Homo sapiens: one gene and its partner. The protein of the gene in region 1 interacts with the protein of each later gene in a biochemical or structural test. Each region holds a gene or a part of one and is shown on either strand. Other genes may lie near its edges.

Region 1 (4,111 bases):
CAAAAGCACAAACACCACAATATGAAATGAACACCTAAAACCATTCCTTTCACCAGCCCAGGGACATTGAGACAATAAATACTGAAACAATCACTTCAGAGCAGTGTGTAACAGAAGACAAGAGTCATTTTAAAAAGCAACAGGGAAAAAACCCAACCCAGAAACCCAGATAGTGGTGGAAATTAACATCTTGATAAAGACAGAGAAGCCTAGATAAAGCCAGAGGATAGTGTGTGGGGAGAGTGAAAACCGATACAAATTTTCCAGGAAAAGGATTGGATCAAAGTAATGAAAGTGTAATGTCAAAGAATACTTTCCTAAAATACAGACAGTATGTCATTCCTACTCTTGTTATTCATAGGCAGTTCAAACTTCTCTAGACGTACTTCAAAACAAAAACCTTTTAGAATTATTGGGTGGGAGAAATCTTGGGACAGAAAAAAAACTTTGGGATGGGAATGGGGATGACAAGAATTGATGGGTCAGAGTTCCAAATGCAGATGCTTTTCCTGTGCCCTGCCTTAGCCAGAAATAGCTTCTTCATGAGCAGGGCCACCAGCTGAGGTCCCCACACTCTACCAGTGTTGGTAAATGTGGGTAAACACCTTAAATTGCCTCAGGATTCAATCCCTCCCACTATCCTCCAAGAACAGGGTGAAGTTCTGAATATATCTCTCTATACAAATGCATTCTATTGTTGATACTTTTTCCAGAGAGGAGGAAATTAACAGTAATAGTAATCAATATTATTGACTGCAACGAAATGTCTTCTTTGGAAATTGACTGATGGTCACGTATCAAGGGGAGATGCTGGGTTTTCTCTCAGGGAAGACATTTCACTCTGTCACCTACTTGGTTTCAAAGAGAAGGAGGTGGAAGGAGGGGCCAAAAAGTTTAAGGTATGCTGCATACACTGACAGGCTCCTCAGAGCAACTGGCTGGGTAGCAAGGGGGCTGTGACTGAAGAACATGACAGAAGCCAATCCATTGTACAGCAACCACCAAGGCCAAATCTACTTGCCACCTTCCTCATATCTGCCAAGTGCTCACAAGGCCTTGTCGATGAAAGGGAAACTGAGGCAGCCAATGGGGTGAGAGGGCAAAGGTCACTTCAGGTTGAGGCAGAGGCAGGATGAAAACACTTACGTCGGAGGATCTCTCGTTGCTTTCTGACGTACCAGGTGTACAGAGCGGCACGCTTCTGGGTCTTCATAGGGGTGCCCTTGTTGAGATGCTGGGAGAGGTGCGACTGGTTCAGGCCGGTGACATCGACCACCTCCCTCTGGGGGATGTTGTGTTGCTGCATGTAACCCTTGATCATTTTAGCAGCCCTCCAAGGGTCCTCACTAGACAGACAAGCAGATGGTTAGGGTACTAGTGGGAGACATCTGGGGAGAAACATTCTTTTTCTAGGGGGTGCTACCTATGGTCTATGCAAAATTCTGAATTTTCCCCCCATCTAAGCTACAACTTTGGGGTAGACATGAGGCCAAAATGGAAGCTAAACAGAGGAGAAGGTGACTGCCCCTGTACGGTACACCTCATCCCTTTCTTCTGAGGTTAGTGGGCAAAAGAGGACTTCCCATCTTCAGGAATAAAAAAGCACCACCACCACTCTCTCTTATTAAGCAAAAAGAAAAGCTCTTGTTTTATTTAATTAATTAATTAATTTATTTATTATTATTTTTTTTGATGTGGAGTTTTGCTCTTGTCACCCAGGCTGGAGTGCAACGGCATCTTGGCTCACTGCAACCTCCACCAGGATCCTGGGTTCAAGCGATTCTCCTGCCTCAGCCTCCAGAGTAACTGGGATTATAGATGCCCAGCACCACACCCAGCTAAATTTTTTATTTTTAGTAGAGATGGGGTTTCACCATGTTGGCCAGGCTGGGCTCACACTCCTGACCTTAGGTGATCCATCTGCCTCGGCCTCCCAAAGTGCTGGGATTACAGACGTGAGCCACCGCGCCTGGCCATTTTATTTTGCTTTCCTCCATTTTCCTGCAATGTGGGAGATTTAAAAGGCAGGAGGCCCACTGGAAAGTGGGGATGCCTTTAGCTTGGGGCTGGACTCCCTGATCCTACAATGAAGTAGGGATAGCATCAGTTTCTGAATTTGCCCAATTTTAGCTTCAACCTCTCCTACATTATTTTCCTTTTGAATGGGTATCTCCATTTCTTATAAAACAGGGGTGAAATGTATGTGTTCACCTTCTAAGAAGCAAGGAGGATGTCTTAGCCAAATAGTAAATAATTTTCAGAGTTTTAGAAAAGTTTTCCAAAATACAATGTTGTATCTCCTTGGGACGGGAGGATCACACCACTGAGGTGAGGCAAGTAGTTAAAAAAAAAAAAAATCCACAGCTCCACCTTCCAGACAAAATCTACTGGGCTAATGGGGACAAATAACTTCAATTTCGGACATTAACAATTTTAGATGCTTGTTTTCCTGTATTATGTTTCTCATAAATTTTAAATACTGGATAAGAACATGGTTATACTTTTCATTTCTCATAAACACAGGTGTGTAAACTGCTAGTTTTAGCACCTTTGAATTTTATTTGTCTAGAATGGTTTCAACTTTGCCAATATCTTTTCTTGCTTATTGAACAGATGCTTTGAAAAGAGAGATATAATTTAAAACTAGAAATTAAAATAGTGTGCAGCACAGAACAAAAGTACTAAAGAAGCAATATATACATGTTTACTATTTATTTAATGCAGGTACATATTTAACTTACAAAAACCAGCACCCCATTACTGTATGTTGATATATATATTAGCTTGATAGAACAAGAAAAAAAACGGAAGGGAAAACTAGTTTCAGGTGAAACAAAAAAGAAAACGGTGTAGAGGCTGAAATAGATACAGCATTGCAACATAATAAGCAATTTTATTTCTAAATGGCGCCTTTAAATATGTCAAATAAAATTAATTCTGTTTAATGAATAAAAATCCAGTAATCGAACATATTTTATAAGCATTTGGGTAGTTGTGATTATTTTATTAAGACTTTGATATTAAACTCGTGAGAACACAGGCTTTGATAGAGATGTTTTTGAGAAATGCAAACTTTTTATATTAATTATATATAAGAACGAATTTCTCAAGTATTTACAAAGGTAATTTCCAAGTACACAATATGAGGAAGTAACAAGAAGAACAAAAAATGAGAAAACGAGTTACAGTTTCAAACGTGGAGAATTCACATTAAGAGGAAAATAATGTAATAAACGTTTTAGACATATCCTTGTAAACATCACAGATCATTTAAAAGTTTATTTCTGGTCAATATTTCCACCGATATTTTTAGGATGGAAAAATACTTTCAACGGCTACGAACAAGACTCCTCGAACCTTAGGGGAAAAATTGCATTTTAAAAGTGAATATTGCTTTAGCAAATTCTTCGGCTATTTTTCTTTTGTTTAAATGCCTTTACCTGTGTTCATTTTGTATGCCTAAGAAACCTAGAAAAATAGGGTACTGTTCTAAGTGGGAATGATTCTGTGGAAACAGTGAATTAGCCCAACAATTGGGGAGGGTTTAAAAAAAGCCCCCAAGAACCTTATAAATAATGGCAAAACCTTTTAAGTCCGACTTAAAAGAGTGAGGAGTAAGATGGCGCAGTTATACCTTCACAACCCTCTGACCCCAAAATTCACGTGTGTTCACCGGGAAGAGCCGGGAGAGCTGGTTATTTTTGTTTGTTTGTTTGAAAACACAGCTCAGGTTCAGAGGTTCCCTAACACCGAGAAAGGCACCGGTCCCGAAGAGGGCCTGCGGCCATTGTGTCCCAAGCGCAGGTGTCAAACGCCGGCCGCGGCGCCCGCAGGGTCCGTCCCGCACGCTCCTTCTCAAACAATGACTTTGCTGCCCACGAGCAGAGAAGCCTGGACTCCAGCGCAGTCCGCAGCGCGTTCGTTAAGGAGCCCAACTTCGGCTTCTTAGAATGCAGCCCACTTTCTAGACGCCCCCGGCGCACCTGCCTCGAGGCCGCGAGAAAGGCCAGCTCCGGCCGGGAGCCGGGGACCGGGAAGCGCGCAGTCCCGACCTTCCTCCCCTGCCTTTCTCTTCCAGGAGGTTTACTAGAACTCCGGGAACTCCAAAACG
Region 2 (2,945 bases), on another chromosome or scaffold:
GTAGGTGGTCCGTGGACCAGATTTTGTAAAATACTTCTGTTAAGGGATACAGTGGGCAGTGTTTCCAGAATAAACCCTTTTATATACTTGTATTCATTTGAACCAAATGTTACCTGACCCATTGTCTTGATACCTATTTAGAAAACCCACCCACCCAACCAACCAACCAACCAACCAACCAACCAGCAAACACCCTTAAATGAAACTATTACATATAGAACTATCAAGGTAGAAAAACATATTATGGTGGAAGAGACAAGCAAAAATGGCCATTGAAAGGAAAGGAGACTTCTTGTTTTTAACATTCACTAAAAAAGTTTAAGGTAGAACTGAGAGGCTAATGTTAAACAATTCAGAAATATCCATTATTCAAAATGAGATACCAGCGAGGTGAAAATTATTCATAGTTCTTAGTAATTTCATGATCTGAAATTTATAAATCTTCTATACAAACGAAAGGATAAAGCACAATTCTAAAGCATAGAAACCCCCCATCCCCCACCCAAGGATAGTGTCCAGCCAGGGAAAACAACAATATTAAAGGTGCTTTAGACTGTTGGGTTTTCAATTGTGTTGAATCAATTACATATAAGAACAGTATCTTTTGACAGTATGGTGAAGCTAGATCTGTCTGAGTGAAATGCATTATATCAAGTCCTGACTGTCTTTCTGGGAATGTCCACAGCTAAAAATTAAACCTTTAGTTCTTAAAGTCAACTTCAATAAGAGGGATTATTTATATTAAAAACAAAATTAAATTTCCATACTTTTGTTCTTTTCATAATAAAACTAATTACACCCTCATAACAATAATTGTGAAAAGAAACACAGTATAATAAGTAAAGAACACATTTGCTGTTTTTATTGGTGCCTTGCATGGCAGTAATACTGAAAAAGGAGAATGCAAAAAAATAAAATAAAATAAACAAAAAACAAAAACGAAAAACAGGTTGGTGGCAACCCACATCTTTTTTTTAAGAGCACATAAACTCCTGTTTTATTTTTATTGTGGCATGAATGATAACATAAAACCAAAAACATGAAAATATACAACTTATATTACACTATGTGTTATGAACAAAATATAAATCTATAACTCTATGTTATATTTACATAATTACTTATTATTTTATTAAATTTCAAGTGAGATGGTAGGTTGCACATACTTTGTTTTAAGCTCCAGGCATTTGATTGTCTCTTTTCTATTTTTTTTCCATTTTTACTTGTAAAATCCAAAATATTAGAAGGACTAAGAGCTTTAGAGCCAGTGGAGCTATATAAATACTGTTTTAGTGAACCAGTGACGGAAACACTGGGGAGGACAGGAATCAATCAATCAGTAGGAAACTCAACACATCGTCTTCAACCTGGGAAGTTGATAGTTATAGGATACTTTAAAATTAAATACTGTAAAAGCCTGGCTAAACCAACAGCTATGCCCTACAAGACAAAGGGATACCTGAACCACTTTAAGTGGCCTTCATAGTTTTCCTTGCAGACCCCGTAAGTTTTATTTTATTATTAATTTGATAGACAAATACCTTATAAACCTGTTTGTAAATATACAGTTGTTTATTACAATTCAACAATTTACCCATTAGAATGAGTGAAAGTGTAATTATTTTTTATGTTTTAAATGTGATATAAGAGGTTTCTTCTGGGAACAGTCACAGCTTCTGGATTAAGAAAATATCTGAAGTTGGACCAAAAAATGGTTAATTTTCTTTAAGTGAATTAAGGTAAAATTCTACTCCGGAAATCAAATCTATAAAATAGCTTCACCACAGAAAACTTTTTTATATTTGTTCTTTATAAGAGGATTTGGTTCTAACGATGATTATGTTCTTTGGGAGGGATTTTATACATGGTTAACTCTTAACTGCAGATGCCAAATGAACTTCACAAATGGACTTCACTAATTTAGGTATAAATGTGCTGAAGAATAGTTTTATATTTTATCCAATTGTGGTAAGTTAATCACTAACTTATTATTAGTAACTATAAATGAGTAACTTTATTTTCTCCGGTAATGTTCTCTTAGATTCATATGAAAACAGGACTATTTTTAGAGAAACGGACTACAACAACTATAAAAACCAGAATTCTGGCAAGATTATTTCTCAGTGTTGGGGCAAGTGTGTGTGTGTGTGTGTGTGCGCGCGCGCGCGCGCGCATGTGAGAGAGAGAGAGAAAGGGAAAGAGATAAAGTGTGAACAGATAGGTAAGAAAGCAGACAGGAAGGAGACTGTTTATGTTTTAGTTTGATCTTTTGATCTTACTCTCATTTTCTTTATCTTTTTTGGTCATTATGGGGCACAGAAAAAGAATACAGGGTTTTAGGATCCTTTACCAAAATTATAAATCAACCAATGCCAAAAAGGCAATGTAGTAACACAGTAAGTTGCTATTCATAGCACCTTTTATCAAGTGACTTCAAAGCACTTTCAACATTAATATAACTATTTTTGCTTTTGTTTTCTTTTGGGGAAAACTAGGGCAAAGAAAATTTGATGTCCAGTGAATTAACCGTCAGAACAAGAGAACAGAATGCAGCGGTATGAACTTGCTTTTTGTTTCGGTTCATGCACAGTTTAGTCTCGGACATAAACCTAACTAAAATCAAATTTTGAATTTCAGCAGTTAAAAGTCACCATTAACAATTTTGTTTTCCCCTTCAAATAAAACAAAATATAACAAAAAAAAGACCAAACACCAAAGTGTTGTCAATTCATCGGTAAGTGTGTTAGAATTGATTTCAGCCATGAATGCCTTCAATGGCATCTACCTGGAGCTAAAACAAAGTATTCTTGTAGCCCAAACTCATGAAATGAAAACAAAGCATCTTTCATAACATGGTGTAAAGTAAGTATCCAGCAAACGTGAGAGGTGAACCCACATAAATCGGAAGGAATTTGTTAACAAAGACAGAGAACAAATTTTTTAAA

Evidence for each region. Proteins that work in one complex are often made in the same cells at the same time.
Region 2: the proteins of HNF1B (region 1) and SOX5 form a complex in vitro, tested with the Homo sapiens proteins (one study listed by BioGRID).

The regions. Positions count from the first base shown.
Region 1 is NC_000017.11:37,738,294-37,742,404, forward strand, and holds part of HNF1B (hepatocyte nuclear factor 1-beta), read right to left. Parts: intron 1,347-4,111; coding exon 1,147-1,346; intron 1-1,146. UniProt on the Homo sapiens protein: Transcription factor that binds to the inverted palindrome 5'-GTTAATNATTAAC-3'. Binds to the FPC element in the cAMP regulatory unit of the PLAU gene. Transcriptional activity is increased by coactivator PCBD1.
Region 2 is NC_000012.12:23,528,664-23,531,608, forward strand, and holds the end of SOX5 (transcription factor SOX-5), read right to left. Parts: 3' UTR 841-2,945; downstream 1-840.